7 linked regions of the Homo sapiens genome follow. The protein of the gene in region 3 purifies or fractionates together with the protein of the main gene of each other region. This does not show direct contact. Each region holds a gene or a part of one and is shown on either strand. Other genes may lie near its edges. The genes, in order: GNAT3, ZNF268, OTUD3, RP2, ARGLU1, SLC7A11 and ABCF2.

The links.
Region 1: the proteins of OTUD3 (region 3) and GNAT3 purify together in Homo sapiens (affinity purification with mass spectrometry; one large-scale study listed by BioGRID and IntAct). This does not show direct contact.
Region 2: the proteins of OTUD3 (region 3) and ZNF268 purify together in Homo sapiens (affinity purification with mass spectrometry; one large-scale study listed by BioGRID and IntAct). This does not show direct contact.
Region 4: the proteins of OTUD3 (region 3) and RP2 purify together in Homo sapiens (affinity purification with mass spectrometry; one large-scale study listed by BioGRID and IntAct). This does not show direct contact.
Region 5: the proteins of OTUD3 (region 3) and ARGLU1 purify together in Homo sapiens (affinity purification with mass spectrometry, with the first as the bait; one large-scale study listed by BioGRID). This does not show direct contact.
Region 6: the proteins of OTUD3 (region 3) and SLC7A11 purify together in Homo sapiens (affinity purification with western blotting; one study listed by BioGRID). This does not show direct contact.
Region 7: the proteins of OTUD3 (region 3) and ABCF2 purify together in Homo sapiens (affinity purification with mass spectrometry, with the first as the bait; one large-scale study listed by BioGRID). This does not show direct contact.

The regions. Positions count from the first base shown.
Region 1 is NC_000007.14:80,488,065-80,491,564, forward strand, and holds part of GNAT3 (guanine nucleotide-binding protein G(t) subunit alpha-3), read right to left. Parts: intron 613-3,500; coding exon 471-612; intron 1-470. UniProt on the Homo sapiens protein: Guanine nucleotide-binding protein (G protein) alpha subunit playing a prominent role in bitter and sweet taste transduction as well as in umami (monosodium glutamate, monopotassium glutamate, and inosine monophosphate) taste transduction.
Region 2 is NC_000012.12:133,212,495-133,215,332, forward strand, and holds the end of ZNF268 (zinc finger protein 268), read left to right. Parts: 3' UTR 1-2,338; downstream 2,339-2,838.
Region 3 is NC_000001.11:19,899,395-19,902,894, forward strand, and holds part of OTUD3 (OTU domain-containing protein 3), read left to right. Parts: intron 1-3,500.
Region 4 is NC_000023.11:46,850,543-46,854,042, reverse strand, and holds part of RP2 (protein XRP2), read right to left. Parts: intron 568-3,500; coding exon 1-567. UniProt on the Homo sapiens protein: Acts as a GTPase-activating protein (GAP) involved in trafficking between the Golgi and the ciliary membrane.
Region 5 is NC_000013.11:106,541,173-106,544,137, reverse strand, and holds the end of ARGLU1 (arginine and glutamate-rich protein 1), read left to right. Parts: coding exon 1-142; 3' UTR 143-2,465; downstream 2,466-2,965. UniProt on the Homo sapiens protein: Dual function regulator of gene expression; regulator of transcription and modulator of alternative splicing. General coactivator of nuclear receptor-induced gene expression, including genes activated by the glucocorticoid receptor NR3C1.
Region 6 is NC_000004.12:138,239,550-138,243,570, forward strand, and holds the start of SLC7A11 (cystine/glutamate transporter), read right to left. Parts: upstream 2,801-4,021; 5' UTR 2,521-2,800; coding exon 2,244-2,520; intron 1-2,243. UniProt on the Homo sapiens protein: Heterodimer with SLC3A2, that functions as an antiporter by mediating the exchange of extracellular anionic L-cystine and intracellular L-glutamate across the cellular plasma membrane.
Region 7 is NC_000007.14:151,217,206-151,220,705, forward strand, and holds part of ABCF2 (ATP-binding cassette sub-family F member 2), read right to left. Parts: intron 1,955-3,500; coding exon 1,859-1,954; intron 1,669-1,858; coding exon 1,549-1,668; intron 1,446-1,548; coding exon 1,356-1,445; intron 987-1,355; coding exon 876-986; intron 1-875. Other genes in the region: ABCF2-H2BK1 (ABCF2-H2B protein), read right to left, coding at 876-986, 1,356-1,445, 1,549-1,668, 1,859-1,954.

The sequences.
Region 1 (3,500 bases), on a different chromosome or scaffold from region 3:
TTTTTAAAAAAAAACTTATCAAGTAATCATTTCCCTGTTGCCACACAGACCTTGTAATCATCGTCAAACATTAATTATAATTGTTATGTTATTAAACATTTTTTAGTCTCTTTGAAATGGCATAACTAAAAAAATTAATGTAGAGATATTGCAAATTGTGTTTATGCCATAAATTCTTTTGTATTTAGCAATCACAAGCAATATTTTTATTTGTTATGGTGTATTATTTGATATTAAGTTTAATCCTCAGGAAAACAACTAATGTTGAATAATATTACAGTATATAGTAAAAAAGTTTCACTTCAAGGAAAATAAGAAATCTTACACAAAACAGAATTAATGTTTCAAAATTCATGTTTCATATTTTTAAATTTTGGATATAGATTAATACTATGAACTTATTAAGTCCTCTTATTTTATGGCTCAAACTCTATTGCAGGACATACAGCTGTCATTATTTGCATACTTACTGCACTTCTGGGATTTACATAATCAATTCCAAGGGTAGTCATGGCTTTCACAATAGCTAGGATGGATTGCAATGTATTACTGTAAATTACTGCTTTGAACTCCATGCATTCTTGCTCACTGTAACCATTCTTATGGATGATCCTATAATTTAAACATGAAAAGTTTCTGTGAGTTGAATAATTGATTGTAACACTAAAGCACATCCAACTAAGTTGCTTGAATAAAATTACAGTATATATTCATTAAAAAGGAATTTTGACCATACATATATGCTAACTCTAAACAATTTTATGCCTTTGGACTTTTATTATCATTGTCATTTATACAGTATTTTCTTTCTGGGCTACCCATGATAAATATGAAAAGACTTAGGATTTGTTATTTAAAAATACTTTTTTAAAATGGGTAAATCATAAGCATTATACTTAGAAAGTCTATTTTTTTAAGAGAAAAATTTCTAGATTCCCAGGACAAAGATATATACAGAGTTTGAAACTTGACCTTGTGTTTACAACCTGATGTCTAGAGGAAGCGAAGTCATTTAGAACATTCATGACTTTTCCTATCATGCTGAAAAATAGGAGTGCCTGCTTTCTATTTACAGCATTAACAAAGGCATCTTTTTTAGTACACGTAATTGCCCTGTTAAATTTCTTGTCAGTTCTCCATCTGTGTACGTGCCACTGAGTTATAAAAGTTGAAATGCCTGACATTTTATTTGGCTGAACTCTTCTCTACCTTCCACTCATTCAGCCAAACTCAAGATTTTACTAGTAGTTTTCGAATAATAGCTTAAAATAGATTTACCTATCAAAAGCTAAAATCGTTAGATATGCCAGTTACGTATTTTTGCATCTTTATTGTATAATTTTTTTTGTTCCTTTCTATTTTCTCTTATTGTCTTGAAGTCCTTTGTATTCATTAGGCATCTTTTTGGATGTCATATTACTAAAGATTTATATTGTGTCTACACGTATAAAGGCTTTAGCATGGGGGGAAAAGAGCATAAACACCTCTTTAATGTCTTTGAAGATATTAGAAGCTTCCTATACAAGAAATCTGAACTGAAAGGAGTAAAGGCACAGCCTATATTTGTTATTTGTTGTTTTTTATATTTGATTACAAATCATTGCTGAACTTCTACTTTAAACATGGTCATGTTTGTCTTGCTGCATTAAACCATTAAATAACTTACATAAGTAAATAAAATAGACAAAGGCTGTAGAAAAAAATGCAGTAAAATGTCTTTATGGATAGATCAAGAATAAGTTTATTAAAGAAATCCCAGTTTTCTGTCAAATTGAACTTGGAAAATTATTATTAAAATGGCAACTGTGAATAAACATGAGGCACTTAGGTTATCTTCATGAAACAAGTTCTGATTACTATGAGAAGATGAAGAAACATTTATCACAAAGAAAAATGATAAAAACAGAAGTTAAAATGTCCAGTTGAAGTGGGACTTTAAACAACATCGTTTTTCCAGGAGATGCATATATAAATTTCAGTGAGATAGAGCACTCCAACTGCAAAGTTGGTTCTGAGGTCTGTTGAAATTAATAAGCTTTTACTGTGCATTTTCTGTGACATACTGTGTTATGTGTTAAAGAAATACATTATACAAGTCTCTCCTTCCCAAAACCATAGACTAGAGCTCCTCTGTATAATACATTAGTCACTAGATGATTAATTAAAATTAAGTAAAATTAAAAATTTAGTTTCTCAATCACACTATCAACATTTCAAGTGGCTACTAAAGCCACATGTGGCTAGCAGCTGCCATATTTCAAGGCAAAATAGAGAACTTTCCTATCATCCCACAAAGTTCTGTTGAAGAGGACTGAGTTATAAGAAGGCAGAGCATATAAAGAGATTTTTAAACATTATGATAATGCATAGGAACAAACTCTGCATATAGTAAGATGCTATAGAAAAGAAAAAGTGATAAACTCTACTAGGTGTAAGGTATCAAAGAAGACATCCCGGAAGCAGTGATAATCAGCTGATTGTTCAAGGATAGTTATTCCTAGATGGTCAAAAGGAGAGAGAATCATTGTAGGAAGAAAGATCAGTATGAGCAAATAGATGCTCACAATTTTCAAGTGTTCAATATGTGCCAAGCACTATTGTAAGCACTTCATCTGTCTTATTTCTTACAATAAGCCCTTTAAAGTAGATACAATTATGATCTACATTTTATAAGTAAGAAATGTCAGCATAGATAAATTAAGCAAATACCCCCAACTTATTCAGTTAGTTTGTGATACACCTGGGCCACAAACACAATCTGATGTACAGTCCATGATCTTAGCCATGATGCTCAGCCTTCTATAGTGTGTTAGTCTACAGACTTATAAAAGGTCAGCATTAGTGAAGCAGGAAGTAGGGGAGAAATTACAGGACAGGAGGATGAAGACATCGGCAAGAACTGGGCTCCAGTGTCTTGTGTGCCATGGCAAGGAGATTGATCTTGACAGCAAGGGTGAAGAGTTGAATTCAGGAGATAAAATCAGCTTTAAATGGATCAGTTCATGGCAGTGTGGATAATGCAATGAAGGGAAGAGAAGGGAGGTAGAAGCTCCTTAGGAAGATACTGAATTAATCTAGGTCAGAAATGATGACCAATGGAGATCAATGACATGTTTGGAGACAAATTGTGTAGATGTGGCATGACTTGGTAAAAGGGTGAAGGCTTAGCATAACTATGCTGAGATTTATTGCGTTGTAGGCTGGCGTTGTTGTAATTAATTTTAGGGCGATAGAGGCCAGATGGGAGATAAGTTTAATGTTTATTCTGATTTGGACCTAGCCAGAGAATATAGCAGTAGATGTATCTGCCTCTCTAGTTTAGACAAAGTGTGTGAGTTTGAAAGAAATATTCTGAAACAGTCAGCTTGAAGATTCTGGTGAAAATCATAGAACTCTAGCAGTTTTCATTTTGATGAAGGTGCAGAGTAAGTAGAGAAGTGCCAGCATCTCCTGGTACAGTAGAGACACTAACATTTTAAATGTAGTCAGAGATAGAGTTA
Region 2 (2,838 bases), on a different chromosome or scaffold from region 3:
ATATGTATATATACACACACACATACACACATATATACACATATATATACACATATACACATATATATACACATATATATAATAAGAACATTTACCATTTTAACTATTTTTAAGTGTACACTTCAGTGGCATGAAGTACATTATTTCCATTATTGTGCAACTATCATTTTACATTCCACCAGCAGTGCACAAGGCTTCCAATTTCTCCACATACTTGCCAATATTAATTAGTTTGTTTCTCTCTCATTTCATAGGCATGATCATAACTCACTGCAGCCCCAACCTCCTGGGCTCAAGGGATCCTTCCACCTCAGCCTCCTGGGTAGCTGGAACTACAGGTGCCACTACACCCAAATAGTTTTTTGGTTTTTTTGAAATGGAGTTTCACTCTGTCACCCAGGCTGGAGTGCAGTGGCACCATTTCAGCTCACTGCAACCTCCGCCTCCTAGGTTTAAGTGATTCTCCTTCCTCGGCCTCCTGAGTAGCTGGGATTACAGGCATGTGCCACCATGTATGGCTATTTTTTGTATTTTTAGTAGAGACAGGGTTTCACCATGTTGGCCAGGCCAGGCTAGTCTCAAACTCCTGTCCTCAAGTGATCCACTTACCTTGGCCTCCCAAAGTGCTGGGATTACAGGCTTGAACCACTGCACTTGGCCTCCATATTTTTTATAATAGCCACTCTAACATGTATGAAATGGTATCTCATTGTGGTTTTGATTTTCCTTTACCTAATGGCTAGTGATGTTGAAAATCTTTTCATGTACTTCTTGGCACTGGATTTGGCAATGATTTATTGGATATGACACCAGAAGCATGGGAAACAAAAGAAAAAATAGGTAAATTGGACTTCACCAAAATTGAAAACTTTCGGCATCAGTGGACACTATCAAGAAAGTGAAAAGGAGCTGGGTGTGGTGGCTCACGCCTGTAATTCCAGCACTTTGGGAGGCCAAGGTGGGAGGATCACTTGAGGTCAGGAGTGCGAGACCAGCCTGGTTAACTTGGTGAAACCACGTCTCTACTAAAAATAAAAAAAAAGAGAAAAAAAAAAGCCGGGTGTGGTGGCATGTGCCTGTAATCCCAGCAACTCAGGAAGCTGAGGCAGGAGGATCGCTTGAAGCTGTGAGGTGGAGGTTGCAGTGAGCCGAGATCATGCTACTGCACTCCAGCCCAGGTGACAGAGCAAGAAAGCAAAATTCCATCTCAAAAAAAAAAAAAAGGCCGGGTGTGGTGGCTCACGCCTGTAATCCTAGCACTTTGGGAGGCTGAGGCAGGTGGATCACGAGGTCAGGAGATCGAAACCATCCTGGCTAATGTGGTGAAACCCTGTCTCTACAAAAAAATACAAAAAATTAGCCAGGCTGGTAGTGGAAGCCTGTAGTCCCAGCTACTTGGGAGGCTGAGGAAGGAGAATGGCGTGAACCTGGAACCAGTGAGCCCAGATCTCACCACTGCACTCCAGCCTGGGCGACAGAGCGAGACTCCGTCTCAAAAAAAAAAAAGGTGAATATAGGAGAAAAGACACTGTAAAATAATATACCTGATAAGGGTCTAGTATCCAGAACATATAAAGAACTCTTACAACCCAACAACAAAAAGACAACCCAATATCAAAATGGGCAGAGGACTTGAAGAGACTTTTCTGTAAAGAAGATATGCAAATAGCATATGAAACGATACTCAACATCACTAGCCATCATGGAAATATAAATCAAAAATACAATGAGATAACACTCCATACCCATCAGAATGTCTTATTATTTTAAAAACAAACCAGAAACAAGTATTGACAAAGAAGTGGAGAAATGTGAACACCGCTGTAAAATGGTAAAGCTGCTATGACTGACCCTTGCTACAACGTGGAGGAACCTCAGAAACATTGTGCTGAGAACCCAGCACAAGGCCACACACCTGTAATCCCAGCTACTCGGGAGGCTGAGGTGGGAGGGTCGCTTGAGCCTGGGAGTTCAAGTCCAGTCTGGGCAGCATAGCAAGACTCCATGTCTACAAAGATAAAAATAAAAGCAATGTGCAGAAAGAGGCTGGCCACAAAAAGGTCACATACTGTATGATACCACTTATATGAAATACCCAGAATGGGTAAATCCAAAGAGAGCATATTGGTGGTTGTCAAGGGTCGGAGGGAGGATGAAATGTGTGACAGCTGCTTAATGGATGGAGGATTTCCTTTGGGGTGATGAAACTATTTTGGAACTAAGAGGTGGTGGCTGCACAATGTTGTGCATGGACTAAATGTCACAGAAATGTACATTTTTAAAAGTTAATTTTATATTGTGTAAATTTTACCTCAATAAAAAAATCTAGTCCACAGCATTCCCTCACCAGGGTCAGCCCTCTTAGCCTCACATTTAAGTCCCTCCATAGCCCAGTGCTGCCTGGGCCTGGCCAACCACATTCCAGACATGTGCTCCAGCCACACCATCTGCCAGCTCCTAAACCCATGGCTGTTTCATCATTCCAGGTCCAGGTCACCTTCTGATGCCTTCACAGACACTAAGTGATCAGCAGTGCCTCCTTAGGGCACACAGGGTCTTTTGAAACTTGCATTGCTGGAATTCATAGCTCGGCACGTGGTATCCAAGGGTTGTCCCATTTCAATAAGGAGAAATCAGTGTTTTCTGACCATCACCATGCAGCTATCTTGCTCAGGTGACTCACAGCTATCTGCTAGGTATGGCTAGTTCCTTGTGCAGAGGGGAGGGCCAGGCTCAGGTGATTGAATGATTCACCTGCAATCACACAGCCTCCAAGTGAGGTTCACACTCAGGTTCCAGCCCAGAACCTCGTTTCCAGGTGCCACTCAAAGTTTGTGA
Region 3 (3,500 bases):
CTTTTTAAATTTAACATGTCTTGGGATTTAATTCATGGTAGTACATAAGGAACTTCCTGTATCCTTTTTAAAGGCTGCGTAGTGTTCTGTTCTGTAGATGCATTATAATATTTTTGACCAGTCACTTACTGATGGACTTTTAGGTGGTTTCTAACCCTTTGCTATTATAAGCAATGTGCAGTACCTTTTATGTACCTCATTTCACTCATGTATCTGTGGGACACATTCCTAGAAGGTCCTTGCCACATCAGAGGATGTTGATAAGTGAATTGTCAAATTACGTTCTAACAAGATTTCACCGGTTTAAACTCCCACCTGCAATATGTGGCTCTTTTCCTGCACGGTGCACTTCGTCAACATAGTGTTACCAAATTTTTAAATCCTTTTCATTGTTAGGGGAAAAATTGTTTACTTAACCTAGTTTTAATTTGCATTTCTCTTATTTATGCATCTTTTCCTGTGTTTAAGACATATTTCTATTTTTTGTAAATGGTATTCATTTTCTTTCTCCATTTTTTTCCTATTAAGTTGTCTTAATGATTTTGGGGAGCTTTTTATGTATTAGGGAAATTAGCCTCTGTCTGTGATATGAGTTGCAAATAGTTTTTCGCACTCTGTCATTTGTCTTTTTGTTCTTTCTCCTGTGGTCTTTGCTATGAAAGAATTTTAGATTTTTACATAGTTAAATTTGTTACGATTTTCTTATATGCCCTTTGGATTTTGGGTCATAACTGGGAAAGTCTTTCCCACTCTGAGGTTAAAAAGAATTCTCCCATAGTTTAGAATAGTACTTTCATAGTTTCACTTTATTTATTTATTTATTTTTTGAGACTGGGTCTCACTCTGTCGCCCAGGCTGGAGTGCAGTGCTATGATCATGTTTCACTGCAGCCTCAACCTCCCAGGCTCAAGCGATCCTCCTGAGTAGCTGGGACCACAGCTGTGTACCACTATGCCTGGCTAATTTTTTATTTTTTGTAGAGACAGGGTCTCACTTTGTTGCCCGGGCTGGTCTCGAACTCCTGGACTCAAGCAACCCTCCTGCCTCGACCACCCAAAGTGTTGAGATTACAGATGTAAGCTACTGCACCCAGCTCATAGTTTGACTTAAAAAAAAAATTAAATCTTGGCTTCATCTGAAATTTATATTGAAATAAGGGTAGGAGGCTATGGATCCAACTTTATATTTCCCTTGTGATTACCTAGTTGTACCCAAACCATTGATTAATTATACATCTTTTCTCCACTGATTTAAAATGCCACTTTCTTTCCATATACTAAATTCCCATATGTATTTGGGTCTATTCCTAGACATTTGGTTCTGGTCCACTGATCTCCCTGTTCACATGTTGATGCCTCATTGTTTTAGTTGGTATATTTTAAAATCTGGTAGGATTTTTCACTCATAATTAATTTTCTTTTTATAAGTTTCCTTATATGTTGTCTTTTTTAAAAAAAACAAAATGAATGTTAGAATCAATGTGTCTAGTTCAAAGGAAATCCTATTGAGGTTTTTTTTTTTGTTTTTTTTTTTTTTTTTTTGAGACAGAGTCTTGCTCTGTTGCCCTGTTGCCCAGGCTGGAGTGCAGTGGTGCAACCTCTGCCTCCCGGGTTCAAGCGATTCTCCTGCCTCAGCCTCCCGAGTAGCTGGGATTACAGGCGCTCGCCACTACCCTTGGCTAATGTTTGTATTTTTAGTAGAGACGGGGTTTCACCGTGTTGGCCAGGCTGGTCTTGAACTCCTGACCTCAAGTGATCTGCTTAACTTGGTCTCCCAAAGTGCTGGGGTTACAGGCGTGAGCCACCGTGCCCGGCCCTATTGAGTTTTTTAAAATTGGAATCTCATTAAATTAATAGAGTAATTTAAGGAAAAGCTGACATCTTTTTGATGTTGAGTCTTTTATTATTTAATTGACTTTGTGATCCACAGGAACATTTTCTTCATATAGATCTTGCCCACTTTTTGTTGAGTTTATTCTTAGGAGGTGTTTTGTGTTTTTTGTGTCTATTGTAAAGAGATCTTTTATGTTTTCTAGTTGGTTATCATTTGTCTGTGAGAGCTGTTAATAACAAGATGTTAATTACATAGGTATCCCACAGAACCCCTCTTTTTTTAAAAGTTAAGGCAAAATTCACATAACATAAAATTAATCATTTAAAAATATATAGTCCAGTGGTACTCAGTACATCTGCAGTGTTTGTTGTACAACCACTTCTTCTGTCTAGTCCCAAAATATTTTCATCACCCCAAAAGAAAACCTCATATCCATTAAGCAGTGACTCCCAATTCCCCCTCTCCCCTAGCAGTCACCAATCTGCCCTTCTTCTCTATGAATTTGCCTATTCTGGACATTTTATGTAAATGGAATTATATGTGACTTTTTCTTTGTGGCTTCTTTCCCTCAGTATAATGTTTTTGAGAGTCATTCATGGTGTAGCATGTATCAGTACTTCATTCTTTTTTATGGCTGAATAATATTCCATTGTTTGGAGAGATGATTTTTTGTGCACCCATTCATCTGTTAATGAGCATTTAGGTTGTTCCCACCTTTTGGCTATTGAGAATAGTGCTGCTGTGAGTATATGTGTACAGTATTTTTACAAATACCTATTTTCAGTCTTTTTGGATATACCTCGGAGTGGAATTGCTGGGTCATATGATAAACCTAAATTTAACATTTTGAGGAACTGCCAAACGGTTTTCCACAGCAGCTGCACTGTTTTACTTGCCACCGGTAATGTATGAAGGCTCTGCTTTCTCTTCATCCTCTCTGACAAATGTTTTTTTCTTAAATGGTCATCCTAGTTAGTATCTTAAAGTTTTTTTTCGAGACGGAGTCTTGCTCTGTCGCCCAGGCTGGAGTGCAGCGGCACGATCGTGGCTCACTGGCAAGCTCCGCCTCCCGGGTTCACGCCATTCTTCTGCCTCAGCCTCCCGAGTAGCTGGGACTACAGGGACCCACCGCCACGCCCAGCTAAATTTTTGTGTTTTTAGTGGAGACAGGGTTTCATCGTGTTAGCCAGGATGGTCTCGATCTCCTGACCTCGTGATCCACCCACCTCGGCCTCCCAAAGTGCTGGGATTACAGGCATGAGCCACCACGCCCGGCCAGTATCTTAAAGTTTTGAATTGCATTTTCTTAATAGCTAATGACATTGAACATCTTTTCATGTGGTTTTCGGCCATTTGTATATCTTTGGAAAAATGTCTATTCAAGTCTTTTGCCTATTTTTTAATTGGGTTCTGCCTTTTTGAGTTGTAAGAGTTTTTTAATATATTCTAGATGCTAGATTCTTACCCAGGTATATGATTTGCTGTAATTTTTTTGGTTTGCAGTAGTTTTTTGTTGATTCTCTTGTTTCAGTTACAGAATTATATCATCTACAAAGACAGATTACTTTTTTCTTTTTAATTTTATACTTAAAATTTATTTTGGCTAAATACTTTGGCTGTTACCTCCAAAATATTGTTAAGTAATAATGGGGGGAGTGATTATTGTG
Region 4 (3,500 bases), on a different chromosome or scaffold from region 3:
TATTGGAACAATGCTTCTATTGGCTTCTGTGGAAACACGAACAGCTTTGAGCTCTTCGGTAGTAGGTATAGGAACATAGTCCTGAACCACAGCATCTTCTGGAAGAAGGCTCCAGTTGAGTTCTCCTGACACAGGTGTAAAGTCATGAATGTTACTCCATGTATTGTTGAAGATACTTAGCCCTGCATCTTTGAACTGGAAAGCTAATTCAGGATAGTACCATTGAAAACATCCAAATTTGATATTTGAGGAAGACTCAATGATGGGTTGAGTGGCACAACACAAAAAGACTTCCAGCTTTCTACAATCTCGCACACGAAATTGTTGGCAGGCTAATGTGCACTTGCAATCTCTGCAATTCCGGAAAAACACGCTGCCTTTCACGGGTCCCAGAAAAATTATGCAGTTAGTACAGTCATCAATGGTAACTGTAGCAGAGTGATCAAAAATATAGATGTTACAGTTCTCACAGTCTTGAATGAGAAACTGTTGTCCTGCTACCGTCCCAGGTAAGCGACCTACTGTTTCATCCTTCAGTCCACTGAACATGTAGTCTTTTGGATCAACCTGCAGGAACAAAACACAGACCTTGAGTATTATTAACATTATTCAACAAGTATCAACTAAAGGACTATTGGCTGCCAGGCACAGTTCTTAGTGCTGAAATATAAATTCTTAATCTCAATGACTTTGAAACACAGTAACAAAATGAACAGGACAAATTGTTTCTCTCAATAATAATATAAAACCTATGATCTTAGTCAACATACACACCTCCCAGAAGACAGATCCCCTCTCTTTGCTATTAAATTGTGTTCTGGGCATGCAAAGCTAAAGGGTAGCCTCTGTGACACTATGGTTTGAGTTTTCCCATGACTTAACCCAAGTGACACCTACATCATCATTGCTACTGTCAATATTGTCAGTAGGCTTTTAGCCTATTTGGAATTTATAAAAGTAAAAAATGTACTAAGCTTTGTAGAGTACCAGGGTCAAAAATATATTTTTAAATGATTGTTTTAATAAAAGCGCTATGAAAAATTCAACTCATATCCTATGTATCTAATGATCTTAACCATGACCTTGCTATTTCAGCTTTCTGATACTTTTTCTTTTTTGATGCTTCATTTTTAAAACTTCTAATTTCTAAAAAAATCTGAGGCTGGGTGCAGTGGCTCTTGCTTTTAATCCCAGCACTTTGGGAGGCCGAGGTGGGAGGATCAGATGAGACCAGGAGTTCGAGACCAGCCTGGCCAACATGGCGAAACCCCGTCTCTATTAAAAATACAAAAATTACCCAGGCGTGGTGGCGCATGTCTGTAATCCCAGCTACTCGGGAGGCTGAGGCACAAGAATAGCTTGAGCCTCGGAGGTGGAGGTTGCAGTGAGCCGAGATCGCACCACTGCACTCCAGCCTGGGGGACACAGTGAGACTCTGTCCCAAAAATAATAATAATAATAAAATAAAATTCTGAAATTGGGAATGTACCCAGACTGAAATATATTTCTCTATCCTTTTTCAAATCAATGTATGGTCTCAGTTTCTAAACCCCAACTGATTTCTGCAATATGCTACAGAAAACAGAAGAACCTGAAGGCACAAGAATCACAATATGTAAATGCAAGCAAATTTGATTCAAGCATTTATTAAGCTACAACGCAATTTTTCAAATTTGGCCATTTCTATTCTTAGATCTTCCAAACTATAGCTCGCTCCTTCCTTCACTCCTTCTTTCGCTCCTTTCTTCCTTCGCTACTTCCTTCCTTCCTTCCTCCCTCCCTCCCTTCCTCTCTTCCTTCCCTTCCTTCCCTCCCTCCTTTCTCTCTCTCTCTTTCGAGACGGAGTCTCGCTCTGTCGCCCAGGCTGGAATGCAATGGCGCAATCTCAGCTCACTGCAAGCTCCACCTCCTGGGTTCAGGCCATTCTCCGCCTCAGCCTCCCAAGTAGCTGGGACCACAGGTGCCTGCCACCACACCCGGCTAATTTTGTTTTTGTATTTTTTTTTCTGAGATGGAGTCTCGCCCTGTTGCCCAGGCTGGAGTGCAGTGGCATGAACTCGGCTCTCTCCTGTCTCAGCCTCCCGAGTTGCTGGGACTACAGGCACCCGCCACCATGCCTGGCTAATTTTTTGTATTTTTTAGTAGAGATGGGGTTTCACTGTGTTACCCAGGATGGTCTTGATCTCCTGACCTCGTGATCTGCCCGCCTCAGCCTCCCAAAATGCTGGGATTACAGGCGTGAGCCACCACGCCTGGCCCCTGTTTTTGTATTTTTAGTACAGATGGGGTTTCACCATGTTAGCCAGGATGGTCTCGATCTCCTGGCTTTGTGATCCACCTGCCTCGGCCTCCCAAAGTGCTGGGATTACAGGCGTGAGCCACCGTGCCCGGCCTTTTTCTTTTTTTGAGATGGAGTTTCACTCTTGTCACCCAGGCTGGAGTGCAATGGCGCAATCTTGGCTCACTGCAACCTCCACCTCCCGGGTTCAAGTGATTCTCCTGCCTCAGCCTCCTGAGTAGCTGGGATTACAGGCGTGTGCAACCATGCCCAGCTAATGTTGTATTTTTAGTAGAGATGGGGTTTCACCATGTTAGCCGGGCTGGTCTTAAACTCCTGACCTTGGATGATCTGCCTGCCTTGGCCTCCCAAAGTGCTGGGATTACAGGTGTGAGCCACCGAGCCCGGCCCACATAATCTTTTAAACAGTATGCCTGGAAAATGTCACATTAATTTTTTTTATTTTACCTGACCTATCAAAATATGGTCACTAAAAGCCTATTTTTGTTTCTTCCATGTGACTTTCTTATCTACTTCAACTGTTTTAACTGTTTGTGACTATATAAACTTCATGCAAAACCATTCATGCACCATAGGCTCCCATATATACAATATGTAAAAATTTGATTTACAAAGCAAAATTTAATCATCTTAATGATTAGCAAATGAGCTTAAATTGACTTAGTAATTGCACAATAGATATTGTACTTAGCCAGTTTTACATGCTGTACTAGGAGGAACACTGGTCTGCAGTATGAGGCAATAAAAGAAGTACTCATTTTCCAGTCCCAATTTTGTCCCCTATAAGCAACCGGATCTTGAAAAAATCCCCTTAACTTTCTGGATGTTCAGTCACTCTACCAATATTTGAATACCCAGTATGAGCCAGACATTGTTTTAGGCACTAAAATGAATAGGACCAGCTCTTTCCATAAAAGTAAACATTCATCTAAACTAAAAACAACTTGACCATGTAATGAGAGATGCTGAGAATATTTTGGAGGGGACAGAGAAGGGACATCTGGGGCGGGGAAGAGAAGTGGGGCGGAAGTTCTGCAAAACATGAGAATGGATAAGCTAGAGCTCATTAGGTAAAAGGGGTAGGAATAAAGGACCCTCCCTTCCCATGCCAGGCAAAAGTAACAGACGGAACAAAGTAAAATTCTTCAGGGAGTAGGAGGAAAACTGAAAGTAGTTTGGTGTTACACATGCTATCAGAATG
Region 5 (2,965 bases), on a different chromosome or scaffold from region 3:
TGAAGAACAAAGAAAGATTCATGAGGAAAGGATGAAACTAGAACAAGAACGACAACGTCAACAAAAAGAAGAACAAAAAATTATCCTGGGCAAGGGGAAGTCCAGGCCAAAACTGTCCTTCTCATTAAAAACCCAGGATTAAATTGCAAACTCTGAACTTTTTACAAAGAAAAATGGAAAAACTTTGTATGGTAGCTTCATGTTGAAGTGGTTTTTTGTTTTTGTTTTTGTTTTTTTAATTTGTAAAATCTGGAAAGTTAGCTTGTTCTAATAGGGGCTATGCTCTGCAATTCCCTTTTTTTTTTTTTTTTTCCTTCCACTAAGTCAAATCCTTATCAGATCATTGTTGTATTCTAAGGAGTGACGTATTTTTCACCTGTTTGGATTCTATATTAGTGGTCTGAGGAAGAGCAGATCACATTGTAAAACTATGGATGGTCTGATAAGGCTTTTACTGACCCCACTGACTTCAGAGTTATACTCTGTTTGCTACATCATAATGCTGGTTTTGCTGACTTTTTGTTTTTTTATATATTTATAAAAAAAGAAAAAGTTGGTGATTGCATTGGGAAATTCCCAGGGTATTACTGGACCTATGTGGTGTATTGTTAAACCAGTGTCCTTGTGATACTGTTGCTCTTGATGTTCCTGATACAGGTAAGGAAACAGTTGGTCAACTCTGATACAAAGTATATATACAGTTCAGTATTGTCTCTGTTCATTTTGTTTTTATTTCATTGACAAAATCAAACCAGCATTCCCCATTGTGTAAATAAATGATTTTGCTGAATAAAGTAAAGTCTTAAATTCATATGTTGAAGCAATTTTTTTTAATGTTATGTTAAGTCTTAAAGAGGGTGGTTCACTTTTTGATGGTCAACCATTTAGAAGTCTTAGAACTATATTTCCTCTTGTTTATACTTTTAACATAGGGTTTATATGTACATTAAATATACTTGTGAATTAGTATTTAATGGCTATTTTTACAAATATCAACTTTATGCTGATAGAGCAAATGGCATCAGTGTTACCTTTAAGAAAGACTAACAACATCCAGAAGATTTAAATTCTCAAACCTGTGCCTCTGTTTTAGGATATAAGTATTATCACAAAGTATACTTAATAAAGGCTAGAAAAATGCTTTTAAATTATGGAATCTGAGATCGTTTTCAGAGTGGGCCATCAGAAAGAACTTAGCTTTATACTGTCAAAAAAAGGCTAAGATGGTCGAGTCATTTTCATTGTGTAGTGTACTTGCACGTTTATTTTTAGGACAAACACATTTGAACTTTATGAATTTTTTTTTTTTTTTTGCATGTGAAATCTTATGAATGGCTTTCATTTTATACACTAGAATCTGCCTCATTTACTCTTAACATATGTTTAAGTATACTGGTATTAAAACATTCAAGAAAAGGATATTGATCTAAAATGCTACCTGAGATGCATAAACATGTCATCAAGTAGAGAAAATATTTTTATTTTTGCCCAATATTTTTTAGACAGTTTGATTATTCTTAAAAATTGAAAACATAAGCTAAAGAGATGACTAAATGGTAGATTATTTTGTGTGTGCATGCTAGGAAAAATGCTGTTGCTTTAGTTTTGAGCTCTTCAATGAGTCTAATTGTGGTAAGGAACAATATAAAATCAGTTTAAAGATCTTTAAAGGTAGAATTTTAAATAGGCATGAAATATAGTGAGAACTTTTAGTAAACATACTACTTACTCTAAAATCAAACATTTTATTTTCCTAAAGAATATAGGTTGCCAAAAAATATTTTATCTCTAAATATAGGTTAGCTGTAATTATTTCATGAATTTTTTTTTTTTTCAATGTAACTTTTTTTGGTGAAGATTCATGGTTCCTAAGTTCTGTATTCAAGTTTTTGGAAATGTTTATTTAAAAACTGTTCTATACAAGTGTTCAAAACATTGTATCTAAAGAGAGTAGCCTGGACTTAAAATATTTGAAATCAGCTTATGCGTGCCTTTTAATTTTTTTTTTAAGTTTCTTACTGCCACATATGGTGTGAAGTGACAGTAAGTTGCTTAATGACATCCTGCAGTATCTGCTTGCTTTTGGAGACTCCAGTGAGATGTTGAAATTGTTCCTGTGCTTGGTAACTACTTTCCTCTGCCAGGCTATGGGAAAGAGGATGTAATTGTGAATAATATACACCATCCAGTCTTTAATGTGCTGCAACAATGTAGTAATTTGTTTTTTTCATTTGTTCCCACTGCCTTTGTGTACATAGAAAACTTAAAAATTTCCCCCAGTCTATTAGAAGTTAAGATGTTCCCTAATTTATTAAATATGCCTTTATTCACAATTTGTTTTTTTAGGTTATTCTTAATGCATTATAGAATTAAGTATGACTTTGTTTATTTTTATTACAGTATGTAGTTATTGACATATTGTGGTTTGCAGAATTATCAATTGTATAAACTAAACCTTTAAATTAGCTTGGTGTGAGGACTCTTTAATGCTTTAAATTGGGGAAGGGGTTTGTAGTATGAGATTTTACCTACTTCAGTTTCCCTTATGAAGATGCAGCAAATCAGACTATTTCTACCCTAAGTAATCTCCGTATTCATTTACTGTGCTAGTATGTGTCCATAGCTTTTTTTTTTTTTTTTTTGTATCACCACCTGTCCTGGATTTAGCAGTATCTTAAGAATTTTCAGTGGTTTGTATTTTTTCAATTTTCTAAGTATAGTAAGCGTAGAATCCTGACTTGTTGAACTCTATGTATCATTTCTAATGCCTCATTTTATGAGGAGCCTGTCACTTCACTGACATTTCTCCAAAGCTATTTCTATCCATTAGAGCGTCTCTTTTCAGTTGTCTAAATTTTCTGCATCTTTACACGCAAAACCATTCATCTGTTTTGTATTAATGGCCATGAGAAATACTGAAGACAGGCTATCCTAATTTTTGAGGCTCTCCTCCCCCTCCAGGAGA
Region 6 (4,021 bases), on a different chromosome or scaffold from region 3:
AGTGACAAATGCAATGCAAATAAAGATAAGTAGATTAATACAAGAGCACACTCCCTGCAATTACTAATCAAAGAATACCAACTCAAGTGTAATGTTAGCTAGTCTCCTTAGCTGTTTCTCTCTTTTTATTTTTTTTTGAGCTTTTGCTTCAGATGATATGTAATACTTATGCATAAGCATATTTTCATAGTGCAAGTCAACACACTTTAACTAGTTCAATACTCATACTGATCTATTTTATTACATCTGAATAATCTTTTATTATGTGCAAAAATTGAATCACATAGTGGAAGCTGCATGCACATAAGTACGCAAAGTCCAGTAAACTGGTTGTGGTTTTTCTGATTAGATATTGATTTATTCTGAATATATAAAGTGCTGTAGGAAGATTTAAAGGCTGAGGGTGCACAAAATCATTTAAGATGATCAACAATTAGGTTTCTCTTTTTCTATAAGTGCATATACCAGAGCTATTTTAATATTAATAGTGGCTAAGGGTACTATTAGAGTTTTTCATAATGATATTACTCCAAATTATTTTATAAAGATGGGAAGTAATACTGGGAAATAATGATACACAATTGTTACTGAATATTTAATAAAGCACAAGTTAGTTATAAATAATACCACAAACTCTCTCTAAAAACCCCAAATAATTCCTCTATAAATCTTTCTATACTACTTGTTTTAACAAGTTCTATTTAAAATAACTTCTTCCTAAAAATGGAATTTGAGGACCGGGCGCGGTGGCTCATATCTGTAATCCCAGCACTTTGGGAGACTGAGGTGGGTGGATCACGAGGTCAGGAGATCGAGACCATCCTGGCTAACATGGTGAAACCCCATCTCTACTAAAAAATACGAAAAATAAGCCCAACGTGGTGGCACACACCTGTAGTCCCAGCTACTCGGGAGGCTTAGGCAGGAGAATTGCTTGAACTTGGGAGGCGGAGGTTGCAGTGAGCCGAGATCACACCACTGCACTCCAGCCTGGGCAAAGAGCGAGTCTCTGTCTCAAAAAAAAAAAAAAAATGGAATTTGAGTTCTCTAGATGAGTGTCAAACCAATGATTTAAAACATCACAAGGCCTGAGTAGAAAGAATGAATTGATTGGTACACATGGGAACAGGAGTTAGTACTTGTTAATTAGTCCTAGAGTTAGCGTTAGTACTTGTTAGTTAGTGTTAGTCCCAGAGTTAAGACAAAGAGCAACTTTAAAGTACAGAATCTTTCCCAAGAAGAGTAAATAAATCCTCATAGCATAAATCAAATTTAATGTTTGACAGTTCACCAGTTTTTATCATCTTTACAACAAACTCAGGTAGCTCTCTAGTAATTTGCCTACTCCATAAGGGGGCATTTATTTACCTCTTTACTATTAATTCTCAGATCAATAGAAGAGACATAAACTTTGAAGAAAAATTCATAATTATACTTCTGCCAGTTCCCTTCAGATTAATTTAGTGAACAGGTGGACAAATTCTCTGTGTCCCTGGAGAACAAGTGAAATATAATGAAAAAAACAGATCTGGGCAAGTACAGAAAACTAACGCCCAACTGAAGTTTTAAAACTTATATTGCAAAAGTGTATGGGTATTGAGAAGAGATGAAAGGTTGAAAAGTAATTTGAAATATGCTCAGGCCATTGCAATATACCCCATTATGATAGGGATTGAGTTATGCGCCATCATACATCTCTCCCATGTCAAGGACTTTTGAAAGGATATTAAGAGGTGACAAGCACATGAACTTAAAAAATATTTTTATAAAGACTGCCACCCATTTGTTTGGCTAATAAAAAGTCAGTAAGACTTCTGCTGAACACTCCGTTCTATGTCTAAATAGCCCATGCCAGGTTCCACTTCACAGGTGTCTCATTCAGCATGCCAGCTGCCAGAATGCCCAAGCTAAGTGTACAACTGCCCGGCACAGAAAGTGTGCATGTTTTTTACTGGGTCATGAAAGTTAGCCTTTGCTCTCATCACCACAGAGAAAAGTCAGAAGATAGCCTGTCTTAGTCAGGAAAAGAAAGTACAGCCTGTAGGAAGCAATTTGAGGGTGTTCCAGATCACACCAACAGCGGATGCTGCATCTGGGTAGTTCACGTACCCGAACAAAAATTTTAAAAATTTGGTGTGGCCTTTGCCATCCATTCACTCCTCAAAAACTACCATTTGCTTTCCCAGAAAGCAAGCTTTCCAGCCCCACAGCCACGCCCCCACGAGAGAAAAAGTCGCACTCACCAAATAGTGACAGGACCCCACACACCGTCCAGATGGTCAGAGACATGCCCACGCTGCCCGTGTTCTGGAGCACGCCCTTAGGAGAGATGAAGATTCCTGCTCCAATGATGGTGCCAATGATAATGGAGACTCCCCTCAGTAAAGTGACTTTCCTCTTCAGCTGCACTTTCTCCTGCCCAGGTGGCTCCTTGTTGCCCAGGGAAGGCAGCCTCCCGTTAACATTTCCCTGCAGGTAACCTCCTTTGGAGATGGTGGACACAACAGGCTTTCTGACCATAGTAGGGACACACGGGGGAAAAATAAAACAGAGGGAAAGAAAACAAAACTTTCAACTTTGGTGTCTCTTGGTGTTACTGATCGATGTCTTCCTCTGCTTTCAGACTGTCTCTCTCAGCGCTATAGTGTTCACAGGTGAAAACTCAAAGGTGTGCTTTTTCCTTCACAGCGATCTAATTACTACTCAGAAACACCTGTGTATGCATCGTGCTCTCAATTCTCCACCTCCTCGTTCCACCACTGCTGCTGCTGCTGCTGCTGCCGCCCTATCATTACAAACCAGCTCAGCTTCCTCATGGGCTTGTATTTAAGCGCCTGCCTGTCACACCAACTTACTACAGCTAAATGATGATGCAAATTCTCCAGGTTTGCATCAGCCACATGAGAAGCCTCCAGCATTACTCAGCTCTTTTTTTTAAAAAAAGAAAAAAACAGGAGGAGCTTGTTGCTCAACTGACCTAAGCTTTTTAGAGAACAAAGCACACACTTTAAAGAGATTTTAGCCAATCCAGAAGTAGTAAATTCGGAACAGACCTTCCCAGAGATTTAAAGCAACTCGTAGTGAGCAACAAAAGCTGTTCAAACAAAATGAAACAGGAAATAGTTACTTCATTTTAAGGAGTTTCTTTTTCTTTAATGCGTGTATAAAAACATTTTACATGCGACTGTTTTGTGAGTAGAATGTATCCTAAAGCTACATTGTTTATAACAACACAGTTTGAATTTCATAATTTGTGTAATGCTTTTTATTTTTTTATTTTGAGTTTTTTATAAGGCAATACAGTCAAATCCAATATTTACAAAATTAAAGATTCTACACTTTATACTTCTGTCACATACACACAACTATAAGCCTTCCTCAACATTAAAAGATAAAATTATTTCTTACTACTCATAATAAACCAGTATTTTAAATCACCATCCGAGTGTGACTAATACAAAATTCACCATGACTCCAGAAAATAGTCATTTTCTGATTCTCATTAGCACTAGGTGATTTTTTTGAACTATGTAAAAGATACATATCCTTCATTGTCATGTTGTTCCTTTGAATTACCAAAAAAAATTTCTAAGTTCAAAATTACACAATTACAATTACATAAAAATATGTATATAGCAAAAGCCTGTAAAGGAAAACAGAATGGTAGTTATAGAAAGTAATGATATTATGTATGACTTTTTTCCACATTATATAAACTATTGTTATTATTATAAATTTAAAATGCATTAAAAATGTAAGCTAAATTAAAATATTTACTTTGCAATAGTCAAAAAGGCAAAACATTTTTAAACCCTTCTAACTTTCTCAACCAAGTGTCAAGAAAAAACAAATATGAAAAGAAAAGAAATCCTAGATATCATTTTTGGCTATAGTTACATGTGGTTTTGGATTCAGTGAGAAGAATTGAATGTTATCATTACCCTGAAGCTACCTTTATACGCACCATTAAATAAGCTTCTGAACCTTTGAACAAAAACCACAAACAAAAAGCCTGTGTGCG
Region 7 (3,500 bases), on a different chromosome or scaffold from region 3:
CAGCCCTGAAGAGGACACCATTCCATTATAGGATGCACTCACACACCCGCACTCATTCAGACTGGAACCACTGAGACGTTCCAAGTAACCTGACAGGTGCAGCTTTGGAATTGGGAAGAAACTGAAGTACCAGAGAAAACCCATGTAGACGTTAAAGGGAAAGTGCAAACTCCACAAAGACAGTGGCCCCAGCTGGGAATCATTTCTATTTTTCATCAATATTAATGAAATGACATTACTTGAGAACCTGCAGCATCCCTAAATGCACAGATGTTCCTATATTCTAAATGCTCTGATTGAAAATAGAAACATGGGCCAGACGCGGTGGCTCACGCCTGTAATCCCAGCACTTTGGGAGGCCGAGGTGGGCAGATCATGAGGTCAGGAGTTCAAGACCAGCCTAATGAACATGGTGAAACCCCATCTCTACTAAAATACAAAAAAATTAGCTGTGGCGTGTGCCTGTAATCCCAGCTACTTGGGAGGCTGAGGCAGGAGAATTGCTTGAACTCGGGGGATGAAGGTTGCGGTGAGCTGAGATCGCACATTGCACTCCAGCCTGGGCAACAGAGCGAGACTCCACCTCAAAAAAAAAAAAAGAAAATAGAAACGTGCTTAAACACATACATGTATTCACACACACACTCTAAGACTCCTCCCTACCTATCCCTGTCCCAGGAAAACAGCCCCCAGCCTCAGCACTGTCCAACCAGACATTCCCCCTCTCCTGGCTGCTGCTCCACCCCTCCAGATGGCTCACTCACCACCAGGGTACTCAGGCCCTCCCAAAGTAGTAGCCCCTGCATCACTCCCCTCTTCCTTAACCATCGCAAGGCCTAATCTTAGAGGGATCCACGCCCACCTTGGCACCATACCTCTCCAGTTAGCAGCTTCAGAAGAGTTGACTTCCCTGCTCCATTGGGCCCTACCAGAGCCACTCGTGTGTCAAGGTCAATTCCAAATTCTAGATTATTGTAGATGCAAGGCTGAGGTGGGGATGAGAGAGATGTGGACACAAGGCTAGAATACAGATCTGCTATGACCAGCAGACCAAGCCCGCTGAATTCCCAGTCACCAAGAGAGGAGGAAGGGAGAGTAGCGGGAGGAAGCACTCATAGCAGACCCCGCCTCGCCCACTGCCTCCGCCCACCAACCCAGCTGAGTAGTCTTCTTTCCATATACACGAAGAAAGGCCCGCGAGCAGCCTTGGATGAGGCACCCCAGCTGCCACACCTGAAAATCCCCCAGAGCACGTGGGCTAGCAGGTGTGGTCAGCACAGAACAGGAGCAACTCCCATGAGCTGCCACTCACCCTAAGATACACCCCAGCCACCCATGCCCTGCCCTGAACTTACCCCATCTTTTGTATACTTGAAGCTCACATTTTGCACCATAATGACAGGTGGAGGGATCTTGCCACATGGTGGGAAATAAAATGACAGTGTCTAGGAAGAAAAGAGGGCATTTATCAAGTTGGCTCCTTTCTTATCCACCTCACCTTAGGCCACCCAACCCCACCCAATCACACCCCACCCAATCACACCCCACCTTATCGCTCACGACCCTCTCTGTCAGTCCTGATGCCATCATTTTCTGTAGCGTCTTCTCCTTGCTCTGGGCCTGCCGGGCCAGCTTGGCACTGCCATGACCAAACCTCGCAATGTAGTTCTAAAAAAGACCAAAGAGAGCTTGGAGTATGTGCAGGCGCTCAACAATTCATCTTCAATCCAGGGTAAAAATGTTGATCGTAACTTCTTCCCGACATCCTCCATCACTACCGCTTCTCGAAATGCCCTCATCCGAGCCCCCTGCTTCTTTCAGACAGGAGGCCATGAGCCTGACTCTGCAGTCTCCCTACCTTCATGTGTGCAATCTGATCTTGCTCCCAGTGAAACCTCTTCATCTGGTTCTCCTCCAGCTCTAGCCGCGTCTTCACGTACTGATCATAATTACCCTGCATGGAAATGTGCCAGGTAAGGCAGGCAGCTTTAACCTGGGTTTCAATCCTGGATTCTCACTCAGAGTTTAGGGGGATGAGGGATGGCACTAACTTGGCCCTGGCTCTAAGGCTGTGCAGTAAGAAGAGAGGACGTGCATTACAGAAGCATATCCTAACATCAAATCGGAGTCTTTTCAATTCTATGCCCCTCGCTCAGCCCAGCCAGGGCCAGGCTCCAGCGCAAATCCTTAGGTTAGCTAGAAAGACACCTGTGGCACTGGGAATAGTCCTGAAAATCACGGTCATACGGACGTCACGAGGCTCAGAGCCTTCCAATACCACCTCCTATTCCTTCCCCGTTCCCTAGAGGCTGAAGCCCCACAAAAGACTGCAAGAGCTGTCTCCAGAGGGGAAAACAGACCATTCAGATTTAGAAGCTGACAAACCCTGCATAAGTGGACTACCATGGTTTCTATCTGCAAACAAAAACTGGACTCAAGCTAAATATCCACCAGAAAGGGCCTAACAAGTTACAGGATAAACACATAACGAAATACTATGCAGTGACTGAAAAGATTGTGATTGATTTATATATACTCACATGGAAAGCAGTCCAAAATATACTAAATTTAAAAAAGCAACCTACAGAATGATTATTAAAATTGTAACTGTGGCCAGGTGCAGTGGCTCACACCTGTAATTCCAGCACTTTGGGAGGCTGAGGTGGGTGGATCACTTGAGGCCAGGAGTTTGACAGCAGCCTAGCCAACATGGCGAAACCCCGTCTCTACTAAAAATATAAAAATTAGCTGGGTATGGTGGCATGTGCCTGTGGTCTCAGCTACTTGGGAGGGTGAGGTGGGAGGATCGCTTGAACCTGGGAGGCAGAAGTTGCAGTGAGCCAATATCACGCCACTGGACTCCAGCCTGGGTGACAGAGACAGACCCCATCTCGAGAAAAAAGAGGCCGGGTGCGGTGGCTCACGCCTGTAATCCCAGCACTTTGGGAGGCCGAGGCAGGCGGATCATGAGGTCAAGAGAGGGAGACCATCCTGGCCAATATGGTGAACCCCATCTCTACTAAAAATACAAAAATTAGCTGGGTGTGGTGGCATGCGCCTGTAGTCCCAGCTACTCAGGAAGCCGAGGCAGGAGAGTCCCTTGAACCTGGGAGGTGGAGGTTGCAGTGAGCCCAGATCGCGCCACTGCACTCCAGCCTGGCGACGGAGCAAGACTCCAGCTCAAAAAAAAAAAAAAAAAAAAGCTGCAATTGTATAAAAAGAAAAAGATTACGTATACATGACATTTTCTACAAATGTGTGCAAGTATACATGAAGTTTCTGGAAGGCTATATTATAAACTAATACTCCTATGACTATGAATGAAGAGGACATCAATCGTTAGTTTCTTACATGCTTTTTGAAATATAAAATGAAAAGGCAAGGCACAACAGTGGGCTATTGAGATCCTGACCCCCATTCTCCTGTGGTCATGGGAGGTGGGGTAAATGTGTAGACTCCAGTGAAGCAGAATTAAGAAGGCATTCAAGAAGGCAGAGGGA